7 linked regions of the Homo sapiens genome follow. The protein of the gene in region 1 purifies or fractionates together with the protein of each later gene. This does not show direct contact. Each region holds a gene or a part of one and is shown in the gene's direction. Other genes may lie near its edges. The genes, in order: SLC15A2, MMS19, SGPP2, RNFT1, ATP2C1, OMA1 and STX18.

Region 1 (3,891 bases):
TGAGCACATGATTTTAATGGGCATATAATATTCCATTCTATAGATATACCATAGTTTATTTAGACATTTCCACATAGGTATTCCGTTTTTATTATTATACATAATCCTACAATGAACATTCTTATTCATAAATATTTATGCATGGCTCTGATTATTTCTTAGGGTAAATTCCAAGAAATAAAATGGCTAGGTTAAAGAAAGGAATTACTAGGTTGAAAGTGTCTGATGAGGTCACCTACCCTGAGATGCTACATCGTGATGTCCAATATGCAGTAGAAGGTGTACGTGACCTTCATTTTATATTCTTCATTTTACAGAAAACACCACACTATTCCAAACTGCACCTGAAAACAAAAAGCCAGGATTTTCACTTCCACCTGAAATATCACAATTTGTCTCTCTACACTGAGCATTCTGTGCAGGAGAAGAACTGGTACAGTCTTGTCATTCGTGAAGATGGGAACAGTATCTCCAGCATGATGGTAATTTGAGGAATTGCCTGTGTTTTCAGTTGTCATCTCAAAGTAATATGACTGTCTCATCAACATCTTACCAAGGATCTGCCTGATGATCAAATTTTCTGAGTATAGGTCTTATTTCATCAGCTGTTACTGATTTTTACTTTCCTCTGTTGTAGGTAAAGGATACAGAAAGCAGAACAACCAATGGGATGACAACCGTGAGGTTTGAATGTCAATGAGATTCCAGGCCACTCTGTTTTCTTGAATCTTGGATCTCTTCTAATCTTTGGGGCTGCATTCTACTTGTTCTGAACAGGAATTCCCTCTCGTAGAATGCCAGGGGCACTGGTGTCAAAAGGCATTTTCTAGGACAGTGAGAGGCAGATAGGCTTCTTTTCTCATGTGGGATTCGAAGATGACTCTATCTGTGTATGCCCCCTGTACTCTGGGGCATAAATCCTTTCTGCTGAATTTTATCTATTTATCTTGCTCTCAGGAAAATAACTGAGTACTTTTCTCTCTGTGATCGCCAGAGAGAAATTTGGAAGTGAGAAAATAATCCTCCCTTCATTTTTGATAGTTGAATATATATCTTTTAAAGTATAGTTTTTATTATAAGCCTGTAGAGGCATCATGGTATAGCACACATTTGGAGTCAAAAGACTTAGTTTTGAATCCAGATAAGGCTGAAGGGTCTTGTCAAATGGTGAGGGACAGTTACAGAGATGGAGTACCCAAGAGGACATGTGTTCTCTGTGGCTGGTATTAGATATGAAATGGACAGATACACAGGTCTATGGCCACCAAGGTCAAGTGGTTGCTGTTGAGAATAGCATTTTAGTGGAGAACTTTTAGTGAAAAGTCTGGATTTCACTGAAGGTTGGGACAGTCATAATAACTTGCTTTTGAATATGCTTCAAAAAAAGTAAACAGCTCAAAATAAGACAATGTGAGGTCAGAGAGCCATGGGCCCCCAGAAGGGGCATTTTCTAGGTCAGTGTAGAATGATCTAAAGTCTAGGAATCAACATTCAGGACTCTAAAGGGAAATGTCCTTCTTATTCCTGGGGCCAGAGACCAAATCAAAAGCTATCAAAACAGAAATGTACCAAAACCCATCCTGAGAGGACAATCTAGGTGCCAGGTTCAGAAAAATAGAAAGATGGTCTTGGAAGGGTCCAAAGTTTCTGCAGACTCCAAAACAATTATAATAACCTACTCTGGGCTGGGAGTCTGAGTTTTGCATAGGTCACATTGGACTTCATTTATAAGAGGATAAGATATCAGTTTTATGTAAATACTATCATATCTTTATATATGCATAATTATCTTATTTTTCTTAGTAAAGTCTCAGTTGATAGATTCCACCATTATAAGGGAAATAAATTAGATGCACCTAAGCTGGATTAGTGAGGAAACTCAGATTTCCATGAATGATCATGATAGTGTCCGTCTAGCTAGAGGTCTGGTGAGGATGTGGCAGATAAAAGTTCAAGAAAAAGAAACTTAGGGACAGCTAAGACTATGGATTACTTTTTACGTGTGGGTTCATTCGTCTAGTTAACAATATACATTAGGTACCTTTTATGTGCCAGCCACTATCCTAGGCACCTGGGCACTGGGGATATAGTTATACCCAAAACATAAAAGGCCCCTAACCTCTTTTATCAGGTGTTCCTGTTTGTTTGATATGTAAATAATATCTCTACCCTCAGGTTTGTTAACACTTTGCATAAAGATGTCAACATCTCCCTGAGTACAGATACCTCTCTCAATGTTGGTGAAGACTATGGTGTGTCTGCTTATAGAACTGTGCAAAGAGGAGAGTAAGTGCATTGCCCCTGTGGACATTTTACTTTTGTCAATAATTGTTTTTTAAGTGCTATCTTTGTATATAGGTGGGGAACTTAGGTGCATGTGGTCTAATTTTGAGTATAGACGCACTACTGATCTTTTCCAACTCTTGCTTCCTTCCCTCAGTCTCACTTTTTTTCTGCACAGATATGTTGAGATCACGATTGCCGTGAAGACCACACTATATAGTTAACACAGCCCATCTCTGTATAGTTAACACAGTCCGTCTCTGTGAGTTTCTCAAAGTTTATTATTGGTTTCCATTTCTACTAAAGAAGGTACTTTGGTACCTTACACTGGCACTTCATTACTTAGAGCTTATCTTCTCAGGTTCACTGTTATAGCCTGTTCTACTAAGTCATAAGATTTGCATGAGGAAAATTCACATGGTACTTAAGTTAACAAAAGAATATGATTTGTAACTTCTTTATTTAGGTTGAATATTTTAGAAAATACCTGACAAGCAATAAAGAGCTCAAATCAGGGACAGAAGCCTGGCATGAAAATAACCTACTCCAAGAAACATTTCTCTTCAAAGATAATTAGTGGCTTCACTGCTTTCCTCACCATCAGTAGAGAGATGAGATCACTTTCACCTGGAGATGGGAATGCTTTTCCAAGCCTTGATATTTATTCTAACCTAAATTCATCCTGTTCCAGATACCCTGCAGTGCACTGTAGAACAGAAGATAAGAACTTTTCTCTGAATTTGGGTCTTCTAGACTTTGGTGCAGCATATCTGTTTGTTATTACTAATGTAAGTAGCTCACAGCCACCTCTTTACCCTCTCTCCATATACATATATCTCCTGAGATCCTCTAGGCAGGGGCAGAAAACAAAAGAGAAGACTCTGTGGCAAAGCAGACACGTATATTTATTTCTAGCATAAGATGACAGGTTCTACAGTGACTTTAATTATTTTTATTTTTATTTTTTTTGAGACAGAGTTTCGCTCTCATCGCGCAGGCTGGAGTGCTGTGGCACCATCTCGACTCACTGCAACCTCTGCCTCCCGGGTTAAAGTGATTCTCCTGCCTCAACCTCCCCGAGTATCTGGGATTACAGGCACCCACCACCACCATGCCCAGCTAATTTTTGTATTTTTAGTAGAGATGGGGTTTTGCCGTGTTGGCCAGGCTGGTCTCAAACTCCTGACCTCAGATGATCCACCAGCCTCAGCCTCCCAAAGTGTTGAGATTACAAGCGTGAGTCACCGCACCTGGCTCTACAGTGACTTTAGAAAGCCCACTGTCTCTGTAGGGGTTGTTAAGAGATAACATCAACAACAAGCAAAGGGTCTTGGGGAAGGAGAAACATAATTTATCTTGAGCCATCACTGTGAGATGCCACAGCTTGCTCCAGTCTTTTTATGTCTCCAATCAAACACAAGTTATTTATGAAAAAGTACTAATGTCTTCTTGGCCAGCTTCATATGCAGATCTTCTCACTCTCTGGAAATTTGATCTGCTAGCATGTCACAGTCTGAAATACTGAAACTGATAATAATGTCAATCCCTACACAAAGTTTGGGGATCAGTTAACTGTGATCTGTCAAAAACAATTGTCCTAGCAGTCAG
Region 2 (3,891 bases), on another chromosome or scaffold:
TGAGTTACAAATACTCTTTATTGTCTTACAAATCAGGGTTTTTATTGTTGTTGGTTCTGTTCTGTTTTGTTTTGTTTTTCAGACAGGGTCTCACTCTGTTGCCCAGGCTGGAGTGCAGTAACACAATCCTTGCTCACTGCAACCCCTGCCTCCGGGGTTCGAGTGATTGTTGTGCCTCAGCCACCTGAATAGCTGGGATTACAGTACGTGCCACCATGCCTGACTAATTTTTTTTTTATATTTTTTAGTAGAGATGGGGTTTTGCCATGTTGTCCAGGTTGGTCTCGAACTCCTCACCTCAACTGATCTACCTGCCTCGGCCTCCCAAAGTGCTGGGATTACACGTGTGAGCCACATATCCAGCCACAAATCAGTATTGTGTGCCATCATAGTGGATCTGATGAGCTTAAGGTTCAGTTTCTTCACTATGCTTATATGCTCACTCTAAGAAGAGGTTGGCAAACTTTTTCTTTCCCTTTTTTTTTTTTTTTTTTGAGGCAGGCTGGAGTGTAGTGGCACCATCACAGCTCACTGCAGCCTCCACCTCTCTGGACTCTGGTACTCTGGTGATCCTCCCACCCCTGCCTCCCGAGTAGCTGGAACCATAGGCACATGACACTACTCCCGACTAATTGTTGTATTTTTCTATAGAGACAGGATTTTGCCATGTTGCCCAGGCTGGTCTTGAATTCCTGGGCTCAAGCCATCCACCTGCCTCGACTTCCCAAAGTGTTGGGATTACAGGCATAAGCCACCATGCCTGGCCAACTTTTTCTATAAAAGGCCAGACAGTAGCTTTGTGGGTCATATGGTCTCCTCAACTCTGCTGTTACTGCACAAAAACAGCCTTAGACACAGGAACAGCTACAGTAGCTATATCCCAATAGAACTTTTGTTATCAACACTAAACTTTGAATTTCATATAATTTTCACTTGTCACAAGATATTCTTTTGGTTTGTTTCAAACATTAAAAATGTTAAAACCATTCTTAGCCAAACAATGTCAACAGGTTGATTTTTACTCCTAATGCAGAGTAGATATTGGTTCTTCCTTCACCGTCATCCTAGATTCCCTTATCCTTTTTCTTGGATCAGATCTCCTGTTTCCTGAGTTCACATATTCCTCATTTTGTGGTTTACCCCCTCAGTTTGATGGTGTACTTCCTTTAGTATTTTCCTGAGAGAATGTATGAAGAAGTGAGAATTTTTTAGATTTGTAACCCTTAAATGCCTTCAATCTTGTCTCTCATTTTTGACATTATGGGCATGTAATTCAAGAATAGAAATTCTAGGCCGGGCGCAGTGGCTCACACCTGTAATCTAAGCACTTTAAGAGGCCGAGGCGGGTGGATCACTTGAGGTCAGGAGTTCGAGACTAGCCTGACCAACATGGTGGAATCCCGTCTCTACTAGAAATACAAAAATTAGCTAGGCGTGGTAGCAGGCGCCTGTAATCTCAGCTACTTGGGAGGCTGAGGCAGGAGAATTGCTTGAACCTGGGAGGCGGAGGTTACAGTGAGCCGAGATCACGCCATTGCACTCCAGCTTAGGCAACAAGAGTAAAACTCCATCTCAAAAAAAAAAATAAATAAAAAGAGAATTCTAGCTGGATGCAGTTGCACATGTCTGCAGTCCCAGCTACTTGTGAGGCTGAGGCAGAACAATCACTTGAGGCCAGGAGTTTGAGGCTGTAGTGCACTATGATTGCACCTGAGAAAGAGGCCAGGTGCAGTAACTGACGCTTGTAATCCCGCTACTTTGGGAGGCTGAGGCAGGTGGATTGCTTGAGCTCAGGAGTTCAAGACCAGCCCGGGCACCATGGCAAAACCTTGTCTATAAGAAATACAAAAATTAACTGGGCGTGGTGGTCGAGTCTGTAGCCCCTGCTACTCGGGAGGTGGAGGTGGGAGGATGGCTTGGGCTGGGGAGGCAGAGGTTGCATTGAGCCAAGATCATGCCTCTGCACTCCAGCCTGGAAGACAGAGCCAGACTCAGTCACCAAAAAACCAAAAACAAAAACAAAAAAAAAATGGAAATTATTTTCTCCTAAGATTTTGAAGGCATTGCTACATTTAAATCTAGTTATTGGCTGGGCGTGGTGGCTCATGCCTGTAATCTCAACACTTCGAAAGGCCAAGGCAGGCGGATCACCTGAGGTCAGGAGTTCAAGACCAGCCTGGCTAACATGGTGAAACCCCATTTCTACTAAAAATACAAAAAAATTAGCCGGGCATGGTGGCGTGAGCCTGTAATCCCAGCCACTCGGGAGACAGGCAGGAGAATCGCTTGAATCCTGGAGGCAGAGGCTGCAGTGAGCCAAGATCGTGCCATTGCACTCCAGCTTGTGTAACAAGAGCAAAACTCCATCTCAAATAAATAAATAAGCCTAGTTATCTAGTTTTCATTTGCTGTGGAGAAGTCTGAATTTCTTCTGTTTCATAAACTTTTGTATTTACCATTTTTTTCTTCCTCTCTATAAACTGATGTTTGGTTCACCCCGATACATTGAAACTTCACAGTGATGTGCCTTAGTATTGGTCTATTTCATGTACTGTGTTGGGTACTTAGTAGGCCCTGTCAATCTGGTAACCCGTGTCCATTAGTCCTGTAAATTTTTCTTGAATTCTTTAATTGATGATTTCTTCCTCTCTCTTTTCTCTGTTCCTTCATTTTGGAACTCTCATTAATCTTCTGTTGGACCTCTGATTTTCTGACCTTTTGTTTTCTATTTTGTACCTCTGTCTTTTTGTTACTTTATAAGAGAATTCCACAGTTTTATCTTTTCTATCAAAGTCCAGTCATGAAAACAGAAACCAGGCCAGGTTCGGTGGCTTACGCCTGTAATCCCAGCACTTCGGGAGGCTGAGGTGGGTGGATCATTCGAGGTCAGGAGTTCCAGACCAGCCTGGCCAACATGATGAAACCCCATGTCTACAAAAAATATATAAAAATTAGCCAGGTGTGTTGGTGCGCCTGTAACCCCAGCTACTTGGGAGGTTGAGACATGAGAATCACTTGAACCTAGGAGGTGGAGGTTGCACTGAGCTAGGATCAAGCCACTGCAATCCAGCATGGGTGACAGAGTGAGACTCTGTCTCAAAAAAAAATAATAATAATAATAGTAAATCCCTTCTTTTACTATGTTTTTGGTGGAGTTTGCAAAGAGGAAAAGGAAAACCTGATATATGTTTTCAGTCTGTCGTCTTGGTACAGAAACCATCAAGGCTTTCTGTTTTCAGAATTACAGCTTTTTATAAGGGTGAAAAAAATGGAAATGTCCATCAACAAGGAATTATCTAGATAAACTGGTACAACCACAAAATGAAATCATAGCCACTAAAACTAATGCTATGAAAGAATAATACCATAAAAATGTTCTTAATATGTTAAGTGAAAAAAATTAAAAACCACATGTACAAAATGATTTTTAAGTATATATATATTTTATATGGAAACAGTATATACTAGCACATAGTAACAATATATATCAGCGAAGAAAGGAATACACCAGAAAGTTAAGCATGCTTATTTCTGAGTGGTGAAATGATAGAAAATGTGTAATCAGATTTTTTAAAATGCCTAAAGACAAAAGTTCCCAAGGAGTACCTAAGATCAAGCAAGTCTTCTTGCTGGGGCCTCATTATCTTACTATCTTCCCTGATTGGGTATGAGTATCACCCTGTTCTGCAGGGTTACCAGGTTCGAGCCTGTGTTCAAGGTGGTCTGAAATGTTACACAAACCCACAGCCCTTCTCCCTTTTCCAGCCACCTAATGATCCCCATGGTATCCAGAGAGAAGACCTCATCCTGAGTCTTCGCGCTGTGCTGGCTTCTACACCACGATTTGCTGAGGTGGGTCTAGCCAAGGTTAGGGTATATAGCCTCTGCCCA
Region 3 (4,488 bases), on another chromosome or scaffold:
AAACCAAACCACAGGGTTTTGCCTCACACCTGTAAATGACAGCCAGAAGCATTGTGGAGAGATGCTTCCACCTCCTGGGCCGGACATTTCTGTGTGTGATCCCGCCAGACATGACAATAACTCTGCGTGTCTTCTGTAAGAGGAAAATGGTTTCCCTTAAGAGCTTCAGCATTCTCTCAGTCCCCTTGACTTTGCTCTCCAGACAGGACTGAGAAGCAAGAAAAGTAGAAACTAGGGCATGAAGGGGACTACATCATCCTGGAAAGTCACATCCCAAAGACATTCAGGCCTAAAAGGACAACTGAATAAATAAGGCATTGACAGGTGTTCATTAATCATTTGTGCAACCAAATTCTTAGTAGGCTTTGCATGGACAATCAGGAAACATGCAGGTTTCTGCTGCAAACGAAAGACGGGGTTGAATTGCACTTTTGTTGCAGACTGATCACCTGGGCCTAATTTGATTGTTGCCTCCCAAGGGATCTCTGAGCCCAGGAGGGAAATGTAGGAGGGAGGAGGGAAAACCAAGGCCGGCCTGCAGGATGTTTCCTTTGCTATCTTCTGCTGAGTGCTCTAAAGCAGGTGCAGGTGCAATGAGATACCTAATCCTGTCCCCAGTCCTCCAGCACTTTGTTCTCTTCTCGTTTAAACTCCCTAAATGGTCTGGTGGGGTTTTCCCAGTGTCATTGCTTAAAGAGAGGCAGAGCGGAAAGAAAGAAGTAGGAGAAAGCGGTAAGCATCTTTGTTCTCAATGCGGAAAACCCAGAAGGGACTTTCCTTCCCACCCACCTGAAAATGTTCCCCAGTTGCCAAATCAGAAGGGCAGGGGCAGCGACGCGGAAGATGACTCAGGGCCCACTTTGAACCTCCTGGGTACTTGAGCAAGCTCAAGGGTGTTCGGACCTCTAGGGAGACGTTGCATCACGCAGTTTGGAAAGAACTTGGGAATTCTCCCTGGGGGGCTCGCTGTATTTACTGGGAACTAGTCTTGCAGGAAGGTGAGAGTACGTGGCTGGCTGTGGGGAGCTGGCGTGGGAGGAAATCCGACTTCACCTTGGGCTCAGAGTTGCAAGGAAGGTCACTGTGGGATCAGCCTGAGCCCAAAAGGATGGGCTAATGGGAGCGGCCGCAGGTGCACGCGCGCTCGGCCGCTCCCATTAGTGTTACGTCTGCCGGGGGAAGAAGGTGGGGTGGGGGGTTGGGGGCGCCGGGAGAAGAGAGGCGCAGTTCGGAGATCGGCACTCCTCCGTCCAGTTACAGGCGGTCCTGCCCCCGTGGCCGCCCGGGGCCGCCCAAGCCCTCCGGGACGGAGAGAAAGGGGGACGCGTTGCGCAAGGTGGAGGCAGACACCTGGGCGGGCGCTAGGACCCGGGCGGCGCACCTGTTGGCTGGGCCCGGGGCCCCGCCCGCCCGGCCTCCGCCCGGAGTGCGGGATCGGCGGGGGCGAGGCGGGAGTGGCGGTGCCAGCGGAGGGCACCGGCCCGGCGTGGCAGCGGCGGCGGAGCGCGGCCCCGGGCACACCATGGCCGAGCTGCTGCGGAGCCTGCAGGATTCCCAGCTCGTCGCCCGCTTCCAGCGCCGCTGCGGGCTCTTCCCCGCTCCGGATGAAGGCCCCCGGGAGAACGGCGCGGACCCCACGGAGCGCGCGGCGCGGGTCCCCGGGGTCGAGCATCTCCCCGCAGCCAACGGCAAGGGCGGCGAGGCTCCGGCCAACGGGCTGCGCAGAGCCGCGGCGCCGGAGGTAACCATGGGCAGGTGTTCGCCGGGTACGGGGAGGGGGCGGCTGCGGACGTGCGGGTCCCTGCGACTCCGCCACGCGGGGCCGGCCGGGCCGAGAGGGCGCCGTCCCCGGCAGTGACCCGGCTCCCGCCGCTGCGAGCGGACGGGGAGGCCTGGCCTTCCAGTAACCAGGATGCCACCCTCCAACGCTGCCAGGGGCAACCGGGTCTATTGAGATATCCCCAGACGCTTTCAATGCAGTCCATTTAGAGACTTCCCACTTTCAAAAGTAGTTAAATTCACGTAGATGCCAGCAAATATGTAAGAGTTACGTAATGGAACGGAGGAGCGGGGATGTCCTTGGCACTTCCCCGGGGAGACGTTCTTAGACTCCCCCCCACCCCCGTATTCTTGCATTTCCGCCCATCCCCCTTCCCTGATGCGCACAAATGCGGGTGCAGCCGGGCTCAGCGCGCTCCTCACCGCGCTGCACCGCCAGCTCTGGGCACAGAACTTGGGGCTCACACAGCTCCTAGAGAGATTTACAACCTCCCTGCACTACCCCCGGCGATGATGTCTTAACAGCAACTCTCGCTTGCCCTCCCCCAGAGTCTGGGGGTCCCTCCTGCCTGGTGGGTCTTTTATGGACCGACACCAGTGACTTCTAACAGATGCTTCTGGGAGGGAAGCTCGCTACGCTCCCGCTAGGTGTTCAAAGCGTGGTTATACAACCCACTGCGGCTTGGGGGGAACCAGCGTGCGTCGTCGTCGCAGTGCACAGGGACTTTAGGCAGCAGGGACCAGACGGGCTGCACTTGGCTTCTGGGGACGCATGTCTACCGGGAGCACTGGCAGCACCTGCCTTTTCCCTCGGCAAAGTCAAAAGTGTGGCGCAGGAGAACAGAAATAAACGTATTAATAATTCGAATTCCTTGTACACAGCCACATTTTGTTCTTCCTAGAAGGTTTTGGTGAAAGAAAGGTGGCCTTTACTTACGTGTAAATTTCTAGATGTAGTAACTGAGGAATTACGAAGAACCTGGCTTCTGTGTGGAATGGAATATTATAGGCATTGGATTACAGAATTTGTTTGGGAGGGTGAGGGTGGTTGTGTGTTCTACTCCAGAGAAATCCTCCTCTGTATTTTTTCCTCTTTATTGTTCCTTCTTTATCCCATGTGACATTCCGGTAACCTATAGATGAGTATGAGAACCCCTCTTTTTTCTCTTGCCTTGTCTTAAAAACGGGGCAGAGTAGGGGGGATAAGAAATCAGCTGGGCGTGGTGGTGCGGCCTGTAGTTCCAGCTACTCCGGAGGCTAAGACAGGAGAATAGCTTGAGGCGGAGGTTGCAGTGAGCCAAGATCACGCCACTGCACTCCAGCCAGGGCGACTGAGCGAGACTCCGTCTCAAAAAAAAAAAAAAAAAAAAAAAAAGACCAAAACAAACAAACAAACAAACAAAAAACAGTCCCATGGCTGAAACGTGCCGTGACATATTCGGTGCACACACTGTTTACACCCACAGGTAGACACGTGAGTTGCTTTCTGTTGCTCTCTTCACAAGCTTCTACCCTGTTTCTCTAATTCAGGAAGCTGAAAAAGAGTGAATTGTTCCACCAGTGCTTCTCAAACTGTTTTAAACATCACCCCTGGTAACTTAACTTTAAACTCCACAGTTGGATCCTCTTGACCTTTAAAAGCAAGCTAAGCAGATTTCTTACACAGTTTTATCTTCTTACTGCTTGACAATCCTGGTGGGTCTTCAGTGAGTGAAATTGTGGCGGTTTCCCCACACCCACCCAGCCAACACAGGACTTCTGCTTACAGATCATGTAAAAGCAAGAAAGCTGAATGCCCAAGATAAGAAATCATTGTGTTGGTATATAATGGGGGAAATCATAAACTTGAGAGTGCTTGATAAATGAAAGGTTAATTAATGTTTTTACAGGTGGGTTGGTTTCAAATGACTTGGGAAGATTAATCCTTTACATACACACATTGATTCCCCCCCTCAAAAATTATCTCTTATCTACACTCAGGCAATTTACAGGACTTTAAGGGGGCAGTTGTGAAAAGTGTGCTGCCCTCTCTGCAGGCCTTTGTACAGGCGTTGGCCTGCCTGAGCTGCCTGTCTTTTCTCTAAATATCCTCCCCACTCATCCTTCTATTTCCAAAGGTCAGTTCCTCCATGGGTGACTTCTCTGACCTTCCAGCCTAGCTCCCCCTGCTATAGTTTTTCTTTGCTTTCTGCATTTCTTCATTACAGCATTTATCACGTTGTTTAAATGTGCCTTTGTGTGGATATCTGATTATTCCCCGCCCCTCCAGAGGATGATAAACTCTAAGAATGCAGGCAACTTTTCTGTTATGGTCCTTATTTTTTTCTCATAGCCTGGCACGTAGGAGGGACTAGTGACTTTTGTGAATACATGCATGTAGATTGCAATATAAAATTATAGTTTTAAACTTTTTTTTTAAGAGACAGGGTCTTGCTGTGTCACCCAGGGTGGAGTGCAGTGGCACAATCATAAGTCACTGCATCTTCCACATCCTGGACTCCTGCAGTTCTCCTGCCTCAGCCTCCTGTGTAGCTAAGACTACGGATGCATGCCATCATCTGGTTTGTTGTTGTTGTTGTTGTTGTTATTGTTGTTTTTTGTAGAGACAGGGTCTCACTATGTTGCCAAGACTAGTCTTAAACTCTTGGCCTCAAGTGATCCTTCTGCCTCAGCCTTGCAAAGTGCTGAAATTATAGACGTCAGTCACTG
Region 4 (3,891 bases), on another chromosome or scaffold:
CATGCCTTTTAAATCTAAGGTAAGAAACTCACTTATGCTTTATTGGAGTGATGTTATCGAATCACATTAATGCTATTTAGTCTTTGTTTAAATGAATCCTCCTTTTGCAGTTTTTCAGTTTGCTAACTAGCTTAATTATCTGTATTATTTCAGCTTAGCAACCATTTGTTCAGGCACTTGAACCTGATTATTAACCTATTTGGATAAAATCAGAATTATATTTGCTTCAGAATAATTTTAAAATCAGTCCCCACATCATATGTGGGAAACTATTTAGATGTGTACTTCTGTTCTCCAGGGCATTATCAATTGACAGTTGACTATGTACAATTATTCAGTGGTTTCCCATATGCACTAAAAACTTTTAAATTCTTATAATCAGCAAAAACATACTCACATAGGTTTTACTTGCAGTATACATAAAACATTCTCATTGTATCTTTTTTTTTGGTTTTGTTTTGTTTTGAGATTGTCTCTCGCTCTGTTGCCCAGGCTGGAGTGCAGTGGTGTGATCTTGGCTCACTGCAACCTCCGCCTCCTGGGTTCAGGCAGTTCTCCTGCCTCAGCCTCCTGAGTAGCTGGGATTACAGGTGCCCACCACCACACCCAGTTAATTTTTGTATTTTTAGTAGAGACGGGGTTTCACCATGTTGGCCAGCTGGTCTCGAACTCCTGACCTCAGGTGATCTGCCCATCCCAAAGTGCTGGGAGCCACTGCGTCCAACCTAGAAATTCTTTCAAAGCAGGCCACTCAGTGACTGTAATATGTGAGAACCAGCTTGAGGTTCAGTCATAATCATTATGAAGATTAATTTTATAGTTATTTATATTATTGTATAATATACTCAGTGTTCTCAGTCTAATATTGTTTGTGCTATGTAGTTAAGTAGTTTGGGTAGCTCTATTTGTTTTCTTCTTATTTTTTAGGGTTACTGGTATATGCTTTTAGAAGAATTGTGTCAATACTACCGAACTTTTGTTCCCATACCAGTTTGGTTTCGCTACCTTATAAGCTATGGGGAGTTTGGTAACGTAACTAGATGGAGTCTTGGGATACTGCTGGCTTTACTCTACCTCATATTAAAAGTAGGTAACATTACAAATCTTGTCACTGCATGATTCACATTAATGATTACTGATACATACTACTGTTTTCCTCTTTTAACAGTTTTATAGTTTATCTTCATATCACTAGTTTGAAGTAATAGCAGGTTCTATATTTGTTTAGAAATGGAGAAACGGAAATAGACTATCTTAATCCAGCGGTCCTCAGGTTTCACTGGAGGGAAGGGGAGTCGACCTTCACATAGCGTGGATTATCTAAGTAGGGAAAACAAGTGGAATAGAACATACCCATCCTCAACAGTAACATTGTCATACACATAATTCTTAAACTAGTAGAGTATCTTGTCCTGTTCTCTCCATGCCTGCACCCCTCAACCTAATAATCACTTTATGAAACTTTAAAATCTAAATGTTAAAAACAGGTGAATCAGATAAAATTGCTTTGACTTTGACATAGTTGTATTTGTCTTGATCAAATTGTTACTCTAGGTGTTTAAATGTACTTCAGCTTGCTGAGATGGCTCAAATCTATAAATTGAATAAAATACTCAGCACAAAATGATTAGATGTGACATATAATGAACATTAAGTTAATATGAGGATTTGATGTTATGGGATTTCAGCTTTGGTTTTTGGGTTTAGCAAATAGGACTGTTTGAATTAATAAATGATCTCTTATTTCTCTTTTCAGCTTTTGGAATTTTTTGGGCATCTGAGAACTTTCAGACAGGTTTTACGAATATTTTTTACACAACCAGTAAGTACTTTTTATCAGTTAAGAAAAACACCTTCACCTTTCTTCACTGCAAAAATTTTTTTAGTTCAGCAGTTTTACAAGAATGGATTTCATAAATAGATGATCCTTTTCTTTTACTTTGATTATTTTCTAGTACTTTGGCACTTGGGGCTATAATAATTTAGGAGTTTTATCTCTGTGATCAGATTCTTGAATCACACATTGACAACCACCTGCTAATTGTTGCAGTGCTTATATATTTGAACTTGTCTCTTGCCTCTTCAATCCACTGGACATTTTTAAGGCTTGTAAACCCTTAACAATCTTATGAAATTGTGTTCCTCTTTTTTAATCCACAAATGGGGGCTTTGTTTGTTCCTATTAACTCCTTATTCACCTGTGAAAATCCTTCCATTGTAATTTATTGTTTAGAAAGCTCACTGCCAAAAATCATGTCTCTTGCAGTTTTCTTACTGGAGCAGATTTCCCCATTGCTCAATTATATGTGCATAAATACGTTCATGGCATGAAATTTAACAATTAATTGAGTCTCTGGTGTCATTTATAACATTATTGTGTGATTCTATTGATGTTGCAAATTGCAGTGAAAGGATGTCATAGAGAACCCTAATTTACCACTTAGTAGCCTGAAAGGTTCCTAGTACCTATGTGTGGTCAGCAGACTTCAGGGTTTGATTCTCAATTTTGCAGTCATTTCATCAGGGCCCAAGGAGACTGACTTAAAAGAATGCCAACCGAATAATATACCGTAAAAATAAAAAAAGAATTATGTCTACAAAGTAAACGAGACTAACTGGCCAGGGCCTTTTCCCTAAGATAGAGTTAGCAATGTAGAAACAAACTTTGCTACATCCTATGCAAGCTTGTTTCTCTAGACAAGACATAATAAAATTCAGAGAGTTCAGCTTTGTCCAAGTCAGTTCAACTGATGATTATGTGAGCATCAACCATTTTACTATAATTGGTCTTGTAAGATTTGTGCCGAAATACTCTCAAGAAAATACCCTGATATTCTTTCTCTGAGACAAACTACAGAGAGGATATCAGTCATCAATACTTGGATTTGTTCAAGTCTCCTTTACCAGGGAAATGGCAGTTACTATCTGGAGAGGGAGTCTCCAAGATGCCAGATGAGTAACGTCTTAAAAGCTTGTCAGCATAATTATCTGCAAATGTACTTTGCTAAATGACACCTTACTGAAGGGAAATTGACACCAAGATCATCTAACAGTATCCTGACTTATTTCTGAAATCTTTATTACCAGTTTCAAAAAACCTCAATTTTTAATATCTTTATCCTTTGAGTTTTACTTTGATTTTGATGTTGTTAGCCTGAGACGTTTTAGTACAAGAAGTTTAGATAACTTCAGCTATGTTAAGTCATGCTTTACCCTCATGACCGTGACTGACTTGGGTGTTCTTACATCTCTTTAGTTACCTCTTCCCCATCATTTCTACAGAAAGCAGGTTTCATTTGTAACATTTTGATTTCTCCAAATTTCACTGAGGGTTATTGACATCACATCTAGTTAATGACTAAGTTCTGAATCTGGTGAGGAGGTTAAAATCTTAGAGACGAGTAACTTGTTATTAGGACATTAGAAGAGAAGAAAATTCAAATAATTGCATTTTTGTTCAGTTAGTTTTGACAGTAGTTATTCTACCAAAGCGACATTTACAGTTGCAGTTTCTCCGTAAAACTTTTTTATGTTTAGCACTAAATGCTTTTTATAATTTCGAATAATTTTTAGACCTAGTGGCAGAAAATTCTTCAGTGGTCCCTAAGTCTTCTTCATATTGCACTCACTTGGAGACCTTTCAAATAATAGATTACTGGGTCACATCCCAATATGTCTGGTCCTAGTGAATTGATATTGTGTGGAACAGAGAAATCTATTTTTAAAGCAAGCTTTCCACATGAGTTACATTCAACCAGCCAACCTCTGGCTGGATTGACTTTATGAACCACTGCTGCAGGTAATAAGCTCAATTTGGCAGTCCTGGGTCAAATAATACATGGCTATAGATTTTATAATAGTTACATTTCAGATTGCTTAGTCTCTTAAGCC
Region 5 (3,891 bases), 9.0 Mb from region 1:
CTCTTAACTTCTAACAAGTTCTGAGGTAGTGGATGTGATGCTGTCCTCCTTTCAGAAGCTTTGCTGTATATCTGTATTCCTGTTGAGGTGATTCATGTTAATGTATTGAAGGTTTTGAGAGCACTGCAGTAGAGGAAGCTGTTTAACTCTTAACTATTTCTGACTTACTTGGCCCTAGTCCTCTCCCTCACTTGTTCGTATGTATGTATGTATGTATGTATGTATGTATGTATGTATATATGTATGTATGTGTGTATGTATCTATACTCATAAAATTGTTTTTTTTTTCTTTTTTCTGTATGCTTGGGTAGGTAAATACTGTGTCAGGAGTGAAGCCTTCAAAACTGAGCCCTGTTGCAGAGTTGGAAGATATTATGATAGTTATGATCTGCATGAAAGCATTTGTATACATTTTTGAGTCTTGCAAATTGTAATTTGGAATAAACGGCATGTATAACAATAATGATTTTATGAAAATTGATTCCAAAATGATGAAATGATTTCTAAGTAACATTTTTCCCCTTTATTCATTTATCACTTTCAGTCATCGTCGATGGTTTTAATCTGCCAAGCCATATTTCCAGAACTTTAGGTACTTGACAAAATTAGGAAATAATATTTTGTCATGAAAAGTTGAGTTTTCTCTAGATGAAGATTGAGTCTTAGCTAGTGTCAAATTTTTCCTAGTTGTATTTTCAATTTTAGGCTAATCTAGTCTCATGGTACAGCATTCTACTTTGCATGTCTTAGATTTTGTTGACTTAATTGTATTTTAAAATATGATTGTACTGATTCTGGTCTTTTAGAGTGATGGTTTTGATACAAGATGTGGCTAATCAATGGAAAAGGGATGTTTGAGGAAGAAGTGATGATGGTTATGAACTCTAGAGATGTTAAATGTAGCACAAAATTTGAATCTGGGATTCTTTATGTTCCCTAAGGCTGTGGATCTTTCCATTGATGAGTCCAGCTTGACAGGTGAGACAACGCCTTGTTCTAAGGTGACAGCTCCTCAGCCAGCTGCAACTAATGGAGATCTTGCATCGAGAAGTAACATTGCCTTTATGGGAACACTGGTCAGATGTGGCAAAGCAAAGGTAAATTTTTTTCCTGATTTGAAAAAAGCAGTTCCTTTGTTTGAAACTATTTTCTCAATTATTTTTTGCTGATTTTATGTGGAATTTTTCAAATACATGACAAAGGATAAAATTGAACTTAACCCATTACATCTATTTGTGAAACTGGGGAGAATCTGTGTCCCCAAAGTATAATATTTCCGTAGTTCTGCTATTTCCCAGATAATGGATAATCCTCAATACCTGTTTCTTTTTAAAGAGAGAAACAGTGTTTTCATGGATGTGTTTATTATTAAATAAATTTTAATTTAGTTAATATGATACTGGCTATAATAATCTGACTATATGTTGTTCACCTGTTGATCGATTTCAAATGCTTCCTTTCCTGAATTCTGATACTCCACCAGTGCAAAAGACACCATTCACTAGGGGTAAAAAGAAACTATATTAAATGTCTCCTATTGAGTATAATACATGTTTGTATTTCAGAAATACTAATATAGGCAAAAAATAGGCCTCAGAATTGAGTCTGCTATACGTTTTTTTTTGAGACGGAGTCTCACTTTGTCGTCCAGGCTGGAGTGCAGTGGCGTGATCTTGGCTCACTACAACCTTCACCTTCCAGGTTCAAGTGATTCTCCTGCCTCAGCCTCCTGTGTAGTAGGGATTACAGGCATGTCCCACCATGCCTGGCTAATTTTTTGTATTTTTAGTAGAGATGGCATTTCACCATGTGGGCCAGGCTGATCTCGAACTCCTGACCTCAAGTGATCCACCCGCCTCGGCCACCCAAAGTACTGGCATTATAGGCGTGAGCCACAGCACCCGGCCAGCAATACGTTTAATGTAATGTTTGTTTCCAGAGTTTAAATCATAAGGGGCAAATGCTAATGACAGGAACATAAAAAAGTAAATTTGCTGAGGAAATCTTAGGAGTGTGTATGTTAGACATCTTCACTGTAGGTAAGACTTTGAAAGTTGTTGGATGTGTGTGTGTATGTGTTTTGGTTTACATTTCATCTGGATGTAAATGTATTTTCCTGTTTTTCCCCTTAGGGTGTTGTCATTGGAACAGGAGAAAATTCTGAATTTGGGGAGGTTTTTAAAATGATGCAAGCAGAAGAGGTGAGTACTTAATATGTTAATGATGTATTTGTTCCAAATCTGAAATTCTTCATTGTAAGTAGAGAATGTTGGATTATTTTATATACTATTGAGAGCAATATTTTATTCAGAATGGAAATCAGTTGTCTCTGTTTAGAAACATAATTGGAAAGCCTGTAATTGAAAAGGTCTAAATTGATGTTGTTAGTATTCTAAAGGATTTTGAGCTTTACTCATTGTTTATAGCAGAAAAAGGCTTATAGCCACTTATTTGTAGATCTTATTATTTTCAGAAATTAGTGTTGTGGTAATTTTAAGGATTAGTAATTAGTATATTTGTACCTTGGAATATGTCTTCTATCAAATTTTTTCAACTTCACATAATTCCAAGTAAGGGTGGCAGGGAAAAGATTGCCAAGTAAAATAACCTACAAGATATTCTCGGCTAAAAGTATTAAAGATGAGTTCATTTTAAATACTTTCTTATTATAAAAAGAAGCTTCATTCTGCAAATGTCGTGTTCTCCCCAAATCCTCTGGATTTCTCAGGTAACCTGCCAAAACTCCAGTATGCGATGCAAAGTGGGAACTCATTCCAAGAGGCGTGGCAGTGAAGGGATGAATAGAGAAGAGGGTTAGCAGTTGAGGGAGGATTAAAAGACCTGGGTTACTAGCATGTTTGTGGATACCAAAAGGGAAAAATTGGAAAAGCAAGTGAGAGAGCAGCTGATGGTAATGAAGTCCTGCAGTGGTTGGTAGGAGGGAGAACAGATTTTTCCTCAAAAGGAAGCATAGAGAGAACGGACCTTTTCAAATAATAAACAGGTTTTTAAAAATAGAGAATTTCTGTTCCTCACTGTGTGACCTTGGGCATTGTGTAAAATCTAAGTCTCAGTTTTCTCAGTGAAGGTGATTATTTACCTTATGGGAGAGTTGTATGGTTAACTTAGGAATTGCTTTGTCAAGCACTTAGCAAGCCCCTGGCACTTGATAAAGCTTAGTAAATATAGCTAATTGTGGTGACACTCTTCTTCAATTTATCAAGGCACCAAAAACCCCTCTGCAGAAGAGCATGGACCTCTTAGGAAAACAACTTTCCTTTTACTCCTTTGGTATAATAGGTAAGAGAAGAGTGAGTATGTATATATTTTTATTTGAGTTTTGTTTTTTGAATGTGAAGGGTGGTGGTATTCTAGTTTTATTTATTGGCTTTTCTTTTTTTTATTAAGTTTAATACTTTTTAAAATTATAAGACTACTAGTAGCCATTGTTCATTTCAACAAAGAAAAAATAGAACTCTGATTCTTGTAATCAGAAAATATTTCTTGAAACATTTTAGTATTTGTCTTTCTAGTCTTCAACAAGAATGTAATACGATAGTTTTATGGACTGCTTTTCTATTTTTATTTCACATATCCTGTCATAAAACTCTTGTCATTAAATTGATGGTCACATAAAACAAACATAAAGGTTGTATAGTTTTCTATTTTGTGGGAAAACATATAAGAAGACCTCTTCTAGACATTTAGGATTTTTTGAGGGTTTTTTTTTGGTCATATAAATACTTCTTTAGTGTGGTGTCTTCTGGTAAATACCTCTCTTTTTTAAGGAAAAATTCTTAGAAATAAAATTATTTAGTCAAAGGGGATCCATGTAACTTTTAAATTTTTGGCCAGCTTTAAGTATTGTCATTAACTTCAACTGTAAATAAA
Region 6 (3,891 bases), on another chromosome or scaffold:
AGCTTGGAGCATCTTTGAAAATGTCTAGAATGATGTGTCATGTGTAATTAATACAGAGTAATAACAATACCTTGCCATTTTACAGTTTACTGAGCTTTTTAGTATATGTGGCTTCCCATTCATAATTTTAATACCCAATGAGGTATGTATTTATTATTACTATTTTATATAAGAGAAAACTAATGTTTAGAAAAACAGTAACATGACTAACCTGACAAAGTAACCGAACTGGGACTTTAACGTGGGTCTTCTGTATGTTAGTCCAGTGTTTCTTCCTTTCACTACAGTTACCTGGTTTTTAGCAGCGCTTTTCTTATAGATCATAGAATTCAAGTTGATGTATGCTCCTGTGAATACATGTCTGTTCATCTTGATATAAGTCCAGGAAAAATAACACATCTGTTTCACACATTTTTTAAATTGTTATTCATTTAAAAATATAAATGGCTCTTTTGTCTACATTAGAGAAAGTATTTTTTAAATTGTAAACGCAAAGGTACATAGTGAAGTGACTGAAATGCTAAATCAGAAATACAAGTAACATTAACTTCAAATGGAAATGATAATGATTCTAATCCTTCTAAGAGTAATCTCAAATTCTACCTGTTCCTTAGACTATTAATAAGATGAGATGGGCTAAATTGTTTTTCTGAAACACTGAAAGTAATTATCTCCTTGATTTCTTTTGAGTTACAGGAAGATTTTAAAAACATTTTTCTTGACTGGGTGCAGTGGCTTATACCTGTAATCCCAGCACTTTGAGAGGCTGAGGCAGGAGTATTGCTTGAGCCCAGGAGTTTGAGACTGGCCTCGGCAACATAGACTCAGTCTGTACAGAAAAATTTTAAAAATTAGCTGAGCATGGTGGCTCACACCTGTAGTTCCAGCTGTTCTGGAGCCTGAGGCAGGAGGATTGCTTGAGCCTGGGAGATCAAGGCTACAGTGAGCCATGATCGCACCACTGCACTCTAGCCTGGGTGACAGAGTGAGACACTGTCTCAAACAAAAAAGTAAGAAAAAAAATCTTTTTTTCTTAAACAAATATACACAAGAATACGTCTAAGCAGTGTTATTATATGCACTCTAATATCTTTCAAGTAATGGCTTCACAACTGCAAAATCAGTTTTGGCCATTTTAGCATTTGAAAGGTGTTACTATTCAGTACATTTGTTTTTTAGGCATCTAGTTCAGTGCCTTATATTCAGTGTATTGTCATCTCTATCAGTGCAAGAACAGTAGTAGATGAGGTGTAAAAAGCAAACAGCAGCCTTAAAAATAGAACATAGTTATTAATATGTTTTTGCAGAGATCTTAAACATTGTCAGCACAATATTTTCTCTTTTGGGAGTCTCAGTTTTGATTTTATCTAGGCGTTTATGTTTTCTTTATTCTACAAATACAGGTTTTTGTGTGTGTATTTCCAGTTTTCTAAGACTGTATAATAGCAATTATATTCTTTAATAACAAGGGCTTTCTCTTCTATAACAACTTCCTTATTTTGAGTTTCACTTTTTCATGTTAAAATAATTTCATAATTGGGCTGGGCACAGTGGCTCACCCCTGTAATCCCAGCACTTTGGGAGGCTGAGGTGGGTGGATCATGAGGTCAGGAGTTCAAGACCAGCCTGGCCAACATGGTGAAACTCCATCTCTGCTAAAAATACAAAAAATAGCTGAGCATGGTGGTGGGTACCTGTAATCACAGGTACTCGGGAGGCTGAGGCAGGAGAAACATTTGAACCTGGAGGCGGAGGTTGCAGTGAGTCGAGACCTCGCCACTGCACTCCAGCTTGGGCAACAGGGCAAGACTCTGTCTCAAAAAAAAAAAGATAAATCCATAATTGTTTTTCAAAACACACATTTGTGTTTTGAGGCAAAGTAATGAGGCAAATATAAGGAGGTAAAGTATGTTTTGTGAGGGTACAATATTTGTTAAGGGACAATATTCTAAGTCAGTTTTTAGTTTTCAGTCATTTTTCATACATTCAAGTAATGACTGCTATTTTATCAGTTTCAGCATTACAACATTAACATTTACTAATCACCTTTAATGGCAAACCATGAACAATCTAGTTCATTAAACTTAGATATTACTACTCAAAACAACTATTTTATGAAAAATCTTTTTTGGTAACTGATATAAGTAAATACAAAAATTCATAGAACCTGATTCTTTCATGATAAATACTAGACTTACAAATTTACAAACTTGTATAAATGAATAATATTTCATATATTAGGTCTTGAAGATCAGAATACTTTTATTTAAAATAAACTTCCAGTCTTTTTCTGAATTTTTTCTTGTTTTAAGTGCTTCATATGTTAGGTAGTGTTTAGTCTTTATCCAAAAATATTAGTAAAATAAAACATTTACTTGATTTTTTAAAATGATGCAACTATATTAAAAACTAAAACTGACCGGGTTTGATTTCTGGTCCTTTTAGTAATAGCTGTGCAAATCTGGGCAACTCTTAACCTCTCTCTATCTCAGTTTCATTATCTATAAATGTAGGGATAATTGTAGCTATTTCACAAGATTATTATGCCTGTTAATATAAGAAATTGTAGGTTTATATCCTCTGACTAATAGTAAGTGGCTTAGTAGATACTAGTTAAATGAATGAATAGGTATATAAGTAGATAAACCAAGGAAGGGAAAAACAGACCCGGAAAGAATAAGCAAAAGAAGAAAAAGAGAACTCTCAGTCTTAGGTGGAGAAGGTCAGGTAATTGTAACACATGATGAACTAGAAAATGTAAGCATATACTGTCTCAATGTATAAAATGTAGTTTTTATTATTTTGATTATTCTTAGGCAGAAAAGGCTGGCATGGTTCATTTGTTGGATTTCCTAGGTATGATTTTCCTCACAATGATTTGGGCCATTTGTCCTCGAGATAGCTTGGCACTTTTGTGCCAGTGGATACAGTCTAAATTGCAGGAGGTAAGTCTGAGACAATAACTTGAATTGATCATAGCCTCTGGTGAAGATATTTTAATACTACTGTAAAGCAGCAAATCCAGAGATGTTTTTACATTTTACTATGAAATATGGGTACGAATTTTTAGTGTCTTATGTTTTCTCGTTTTTAGGGGATATTCTTATATATGAATATTTAAATTAAGGAATACTACATCTCTCAAATGATGGGTATGGAGAGTTAGAAGGGCTTGGCAACTTTTGGCTAATAAAATTTTTGAAAATATATTTATTGGTTTTACAGAGAGAAAACCCAGCCACTGACCCTTCCTTTCGTAGTAACTGAATGACTCCCAAATTCAGCTGTCCCTTGGTATACAGGACTTCTTGTGGATACCAAAATCTGAGTATGCTCAAGTCCTTGATAAAAAATGGCATGGTATTGGCCGGGCGCCGTGGCTCATGCCTGTAATCTCAGCACTTTGGGAGGCCAAGGTGGGTGGATCACGAAGTCAGGAGATTGAGACCATCCTGGCTAACGTGGTGAAACCCTGTCTCTACTAAAAATACAAAAAAATTAGCCTGGCGTTGTGGCGGGCGCCTGTAGTCTCAGCTACTTGGGAGGCTGAGGCAGGAGAATGGCGTGAACCCAGGAGGCAGAGCTTGCTGTGAGCCGAGATTGCGCCACTGCACTCCAGCCTGGGCGACAGAGTGAGACTACATCTCAAAAAAAAATAAAAATAAAAATAAAAGCATGGTGTTTGCATGTAACTATGCACATCCTCTCATATACTTTAAATCATCTCTAGATTACTTGTAATTCAATGTAAATGCTATGTAAATAGTTATTTTACTATATATATTTTTAAGTTGTAGTTTTTTAAATTGTTTTTTCGTAGATATTTTCTATCCAAATTGGTTGAATCTACCAGGTGCATAATCCACAGATATAGAGAGCCAACTGTATTTG
Region 7 (3,891 bases), on another chromosome or scaffold:
TCTGGAGCCAGGGCTGCTTAGGTTGCACCCCAACTCCACCCGTCCGAGCCATATAGCCCTCTGCAAATCACTTAATCTCCCTGGGCCTTGTTTTTTTGTCTATGAAATGCAGACAATTAGGGAATGTATCTCTAGGGTTGTTATGAGCATTAAGTTAAATTCCTACAGCATGCTTAGAACTGTGTCTGGCACAAGAGCGCTTATTATCTCACTTTCGTTGATGTTTAATTCTCACTGAGACAATGAGATGGCTTCCCAAGTCACGCCTCTTTCTTGATTCTTTTTTAATTTGCTTAGGCATTTACAGAGTACATTAAATAGTAAGTAGAGTTCAAAGCTGCCAGATGCTGTTGTGCTCACAACACAGACTTTTGTTGGGGAGGTTTTTATTAGAATGCTGACGGACCACTTGGAGACTCTGATGGAAGCAATAGGCATTCTTGCCAGAAAAATGTACATACACAAAATTCTATATGCAATTTCACAGAGCTCCTGAGTCCCCCACACAAATCTTGGGTTAAGCAGCCCTATAGTAAGGCAGAAATCATGCCCTCTACCCTTAAGGGCATATACATTCATTGAGAGACCTAAAAAATGCACAGGAATATTTAACAAAACCTACATTTACATATGAAACCATCTAACCTTGGGCTATTTATTGCCTCTGAACCTTAGTTTCTTCACGTGTAAAAATCAGGAAACTCGGAATTGCTATTGTAATTACTAGCAGTACATATGTAAAGTGCTAGCAGAGTACCTGCACGCAGTAGGCACTCAGTCTCTCAGTCAGTGGTCACTATCTTACCAAAACCAGTGGCACAGACTTTAGGTCTGGTAAGGCCTTTTAGCACACTTCTGTGTGGTAGTTCCCAGGAGAAAGGCATCTTTGTGGCTAGGAGTCATAGGTTTCCTGGAGACAGAAAGTTTGACTCATTGTCTAAGGGACCCTTAGAATGTGAGTGGCCAAGGGGAGAGGATGGGGCACTACAGGCTGAAAAGCAGCACAGGTTCAAGCAGGGAGGAGTGTGTGATTTCAGTTGTTTAAACATGTTCGCTGAAGGTCAGCTTGAGCATTGGATGCTGTTAACACAGATGGGGTCAGCACTCAAGAAGTGGCTGCGTCAAATACTATCCTTAAGTGTTCTGATAAACCATAAATTATTTGACTATAGATTTTCTACAGGTTTAATCTTTCACTCTTGCGAAGCCTGATACATCTTACTGTTTTAAAAATGTAGTGTCACTTGGCACAAGACTTGTTTTATAGCTGTGTTTTAAAAAATACTCTCAATAAAGAAAGTGTTGTGAGGAAGCTGATGAATTGCTCTTTAGGATAATTGAGTGCGAAGGCCTGAACATTGTCTTTTTCTGTTACAGCTCACAAGGAGATACATTCCCAGCAAGTGAAGGAGCACAGGACCGCTGTTTTGGATTTCATTGAAGATTACTTGAAAAGTATTTCATTTTCTTTTAAAGGTCAAATGTAACATTTCACAATAGATGTGATGCAGAATTTAGCTTTGCTAGCTGAAGACTGTAGTATCTCATTATATTTAATGATGGCTTTGCCTGAGAAGCTGTTTTAAGCAGTCTCTCTTCTGGTATTTTCTTCTGCAACAGGAGTATGTAAACTTTACTCAGAACAGAGAGCCATCCGAGTTAAAAGAGTGGTGGATAAGAAAAGATTGTAAGTATTGCTTTCATTGGTGTTTCTTAATTAATAATAGTACTACTAATAATAGCAGTTAAAGTTTGTAGAGCACTTACCCTATGCAATGTACCGTGTTTGAACTTCTTCGCAAAATGCCATAGCTGGCGCTACCGGGCACTCACTGTGTGCCAGGCAGCATGCCAGCCACTTTATTGGCCCACAACAAACCCCCATGAGGCAGGTACTGTTTCCTCCCTCATTTTACAAATGAGGAAGTTGAGGCTCAGGAGGCTTGGCCACTCACCCTAGATCCCACAGTCCCACAGGTAGCATAGCTGGGGTTTGAGCCTAGGCTGTTGGTCCAAAATCTGTGCTCTTGCCCATTTTGTCTCTTAACCCGATGAGGCTGGCACATCTTGAGCCATTTTACCTCAATCTCTTTGACCCCCATACCCCTTCTTGTCGTCCCTGAAAGTGTATTCCTGAGAGAAGAGCGAGGGCACAACAAGCAGGCCACCACAAGGCTGTCCTCAGGTCACCTGTGACAGACTTGCTCGATGCCACATGCTCTGAGTGCACACCTCCCTCCAACCCCACTACCTGTCCCATGCAGGCACTATTAGGAGCCCTGTCAGCAGGTAAGGACGCTGACGCTCCAGCAGGGTAAATGACTCATCCAAGGCCACAGGAAGCAGGAGGGCCAGGCTCCTGTATTTTCCATGGCGCCTGCCTGGTTTCCCCTCTGGGCTCACATGAGCATCTGGAATGCAAGAGCTGTGTCCTCACAGTCGTTCCCGCTGCAACTCAGCCAGTCTTGGAGATGGAATACATCAGTGAGCAAGTATCCAAACCTGGACCATTTCTAGACTAGCTTTAGAAAGGTTTTAGGATGTTCTTTCAGAAGATAACATCACATAACTGTTTGGGGACACATTTTCTTTTTTGTTTTTTTTTGTTTTTTTTGTTTTTGAGACAGGGTCTCACCCTGTCTCCCAGGATGGAGTGCAGTGGCACGACCTCCTGGGCTCAAACAATCCTCCCACTTTAGCCTTCCGAGTAGCTGGGATTACAGGCATGTGCTACCATGTCTGCCTATTTTTTAATTTTATTTTATAAGGGTGGGATGTCACTATGTTGCCCAGGCTGCTGTCAAACTCCTGGGCTCAGGCAATCCCCCTGCCTCCCAAAGTGCTGGACTACAGGCGTGAGCCACCATGTCTGGCCCACATTTTTTAAATTCTTACTGTGTCAGGGGTCCCCAGCACTACTCTCTGGTTCTAGGATTCACTAAGAGGTCTCATGGGACTCAACATACAGTCCTGCTCCTGGCTATGATTTGTCACACTGAAAGGATACGAAGCAAAACAGCAAAGGAAAAGGCATGTGGGACAAAAGTCCAGAGGAAACCAGGCATGAGCTTCTAAGAGTACTCTCCCAGTGGAGTCACACAGCATGTGACCTATGACAACACGTGAAGTGTTGTCTACCAGGGAAGCTCATTAGTAACTCATTGCCCAAGGATTCTGTTAGGGGCTGGTCACATAGGCACCTCACACCTGGCATCTACCGAAACTCTAGACTCCCAGGAGGAAAGCAGGTGCTCAGCACTGAACTGCATTCAAACCGCATGTTTTGCAAAACAGTTCAGGCACGGCGAGCTGTTTTTATCAATTAGGATGGCATGAACTCTGCCAAAGTCCAACTTCTCAGATGCCAGGCAAGGGTTAACCTTGCAAGCAGGCCTTTCTAAGGATAGCAGCCTCAGGCCTACTACATGAACCCTTTTCTGCACATTTGTGAAACAGATGTGAAATTGTTAATGCCAACAAATAGAAGCATTTGTGGAAGATAGTAAGCAGATCAGTCAAGTTATCTGTCAGCAACAGCTACTATTATATAATGCACTGAGAGGGTAGCTTGAGAGAAGCCATAGATTAAGTCTTTGTGCTTAGAGAGCTTAGAAGCAGGCTGGGTTGCTATTAAACATGAAAAATTAGTCAGCTTAATCAGGATATGTCATAATTAGTGAAATCGGTAGTAAGCTCAGAGGGGGAAATGGTACGATCAAGTGGCATAGTATAATGCCTAAGAGCCAGACTCTGCAACCAGACAGCCTGTGTTTGAATCCTGGCTCTGCCACTTTCAAACTGTGTGACTTTGAGCAGGTTGCTTAACTTTTCTGGGCTTTTGTTTCCTTACCTATAAAATGGGAAAACTCATAGTACCTAACTTGTAGTGCT

What was found.
Region 2: the proteins of SLC15A2 (region 1) and MMS19 purify together in Homo sapiens (affinity purification with mass spectrometry; one large-scale study listed by BioGRID and IntAct). This does not show direct contact.
Region 3: the proteins of SLC15A2 (region 1) and SGPP2 purify together in Homo sapiens (affinity purification with mass spectrometry; one large-scale study listed by BioGRID and IntAct). This does not show direct contact.
Region 4: the proteins of SLC15A2 (region 1) and RNFT1 purify together in Homo sapiens (affinity purification with mass spectrometry; one large-scale study listed by BioGRID and IntAct). This does not show direct contact.
Region 5: the proteins of SLC15A2 (region 1) and ATP2C1 purify together in Homo sapiens (affinity purification with mass spectrometry; one large-scale study listed by BioGRID and IntAct). This does not show direct contact.
Region 6: the proteins of SLC15A2 (region 1) and OMA1 purify together in Homo sapiens (affinity purification with mass spectrometry; one large-scale study listed by BioGRID and IntAct). This does not show direct contact.
Region 7: the proteins of SLC15A2 (region 1) and STX18 purify together in Homo sapiens (affinity purification with mass spectrometry; one large-scale study listed by BioGRID and IntAct). This does not show direct contact.

The regions. Positions count from the first base shown.
Region 1 is NC_000003.12:121,928,665-121,932,555, forward strand, and holds part of SLC15A2 (solute carrier family 15 member 2), read left to right. Parts: intron 1-317; coding exon 318-482; intron 483-637; coding exon 638-684; intron 685-2,175; coding exon 2,176-2,286; intron 2,287-2,461; coding exon of another isoform or gene 2,462-2,507; exon of another isoform or gene 2,508-2,968; intron 2,969-2,974; coding exon 2,975-3,071; intron 3,072-3,891. UniProt on the Homo sapiens protein: Proton-coupled amino-acid transporter that transports oligopeptides of 2 to 4 amino acids with a preference for dipeptides. Transports neutral and anionic dipeptides with a proton to peptide stoichiometry of 2:1 or 3:1.
Region 2 is NC_000010.11:97,470,736-97,474,626, reverse strand, and holds part of MMS19 (MMS19 nucleotide excision repair protein homolog), read left to right. Parts: intron 1-3,765; coding exon 3,766-3,852; intron 3,853-3,891. UniProt on the Homo sapiens protein: Key component of the cytosolic iron-sulfur protein assembly (CIA) complex, a multiprotein complex that mediates the incorporation of iron-sulfur cluster into apoproteins specifically involved in DNA metabolism and genomic integrity.
Region 3 is NC_000002.12:222,423,081-222,427,568, forward strand, and holds the start of SGPP2 (sphingosine-1-phosphate phosphatase 2), read left to right. Parts: upstream 1-1,462; 5' UTR 1,463-1,522; coding exon 1,523-1,741; intron 1,742-4,488. UniProt on the Homo sapiens protein: Has specific phosphohydrolase activity towards sphingoid base 1-phosphates. Has high phosphohydrolase activity against dihydrosphingosine-1-phosphate and sphingosine-1-phosphate (S1P) in vitro.
Region 4 is NC_000017.11:59,954,419-59,958,309, reverse strand, and holds part of RNFT1 (E3 ubiquitin-protein ligase RNFT1), read left to right. Parts: coding exon 1-19; intron 20-927; coding exon 928-1,086; intron 1,087-1,756; coding exon 1,757-1,822; intron 1,823-3,891. UniProt on the Homo sapiens protein: E3 ubiquitin-protein ligase that acts in the endoplasmic reticulum (ER)-associated degradation (ERAD) pathway, which targets misfolded proteins that accumulate in the endoplasmic reticulum (ER) for ubiquitination and subsequent proteasome-mediated degradation.
Region 5 is NC_000003.12:130,952,880-130,956,770, forward strand, and holds part of ATP2C1 (calcium-transporting ATPase type 2C member 1), read left to right. Parts: intron 1-941; coding exon 942-1,097; intron 1,098-2,132; coding exon 2,133-2,201; intron 2,202-3,224; coding exon 3,225-3,300; intron 3,301-3,891. UniProt on the Homo sapiens protein: ATP-driven pump that supplies the Golgi apparatus with Ca(2+) and Mn(2+) ions, both essential cofactors for processing and trafficking of newly synthesized proteins in the secretory pathway.
Region 6 is NC_000001.11:58,529,655-58,533,545, reverse strand, and holds part of OMA1 (metalloendopeptidase OMA1, mitochondrial precursor), read left to right. Parts: intron 1-2,816; coding exon 2,817-2,945; intron 2,946-3,891. UniProt on the Homo sapiens protein: Metalloprotease that is part of the quality control system in the inner membrane of mitochondria. Activated in response to various mitochondrial stress, leading to the proteolytic cleavage of target proteins, such as OPA1, UQCC3 and DELE1.
Region 7 is NC_000004.12:4,454,987-4,458,877, reverse strand, and holds part of STX18 (syntaxin-18), read left to right. Parts: intron 1-1,377; coding exon 1,378-1,455; intron 1,456-1,620; coding exon 1,621-1,687; intron 1,688-3,891. UniProt on the Homo sapiens protein: Syntaxin that may be involved in targeting and fusion of Golgi-derived retrograde transport vesicles with the ER.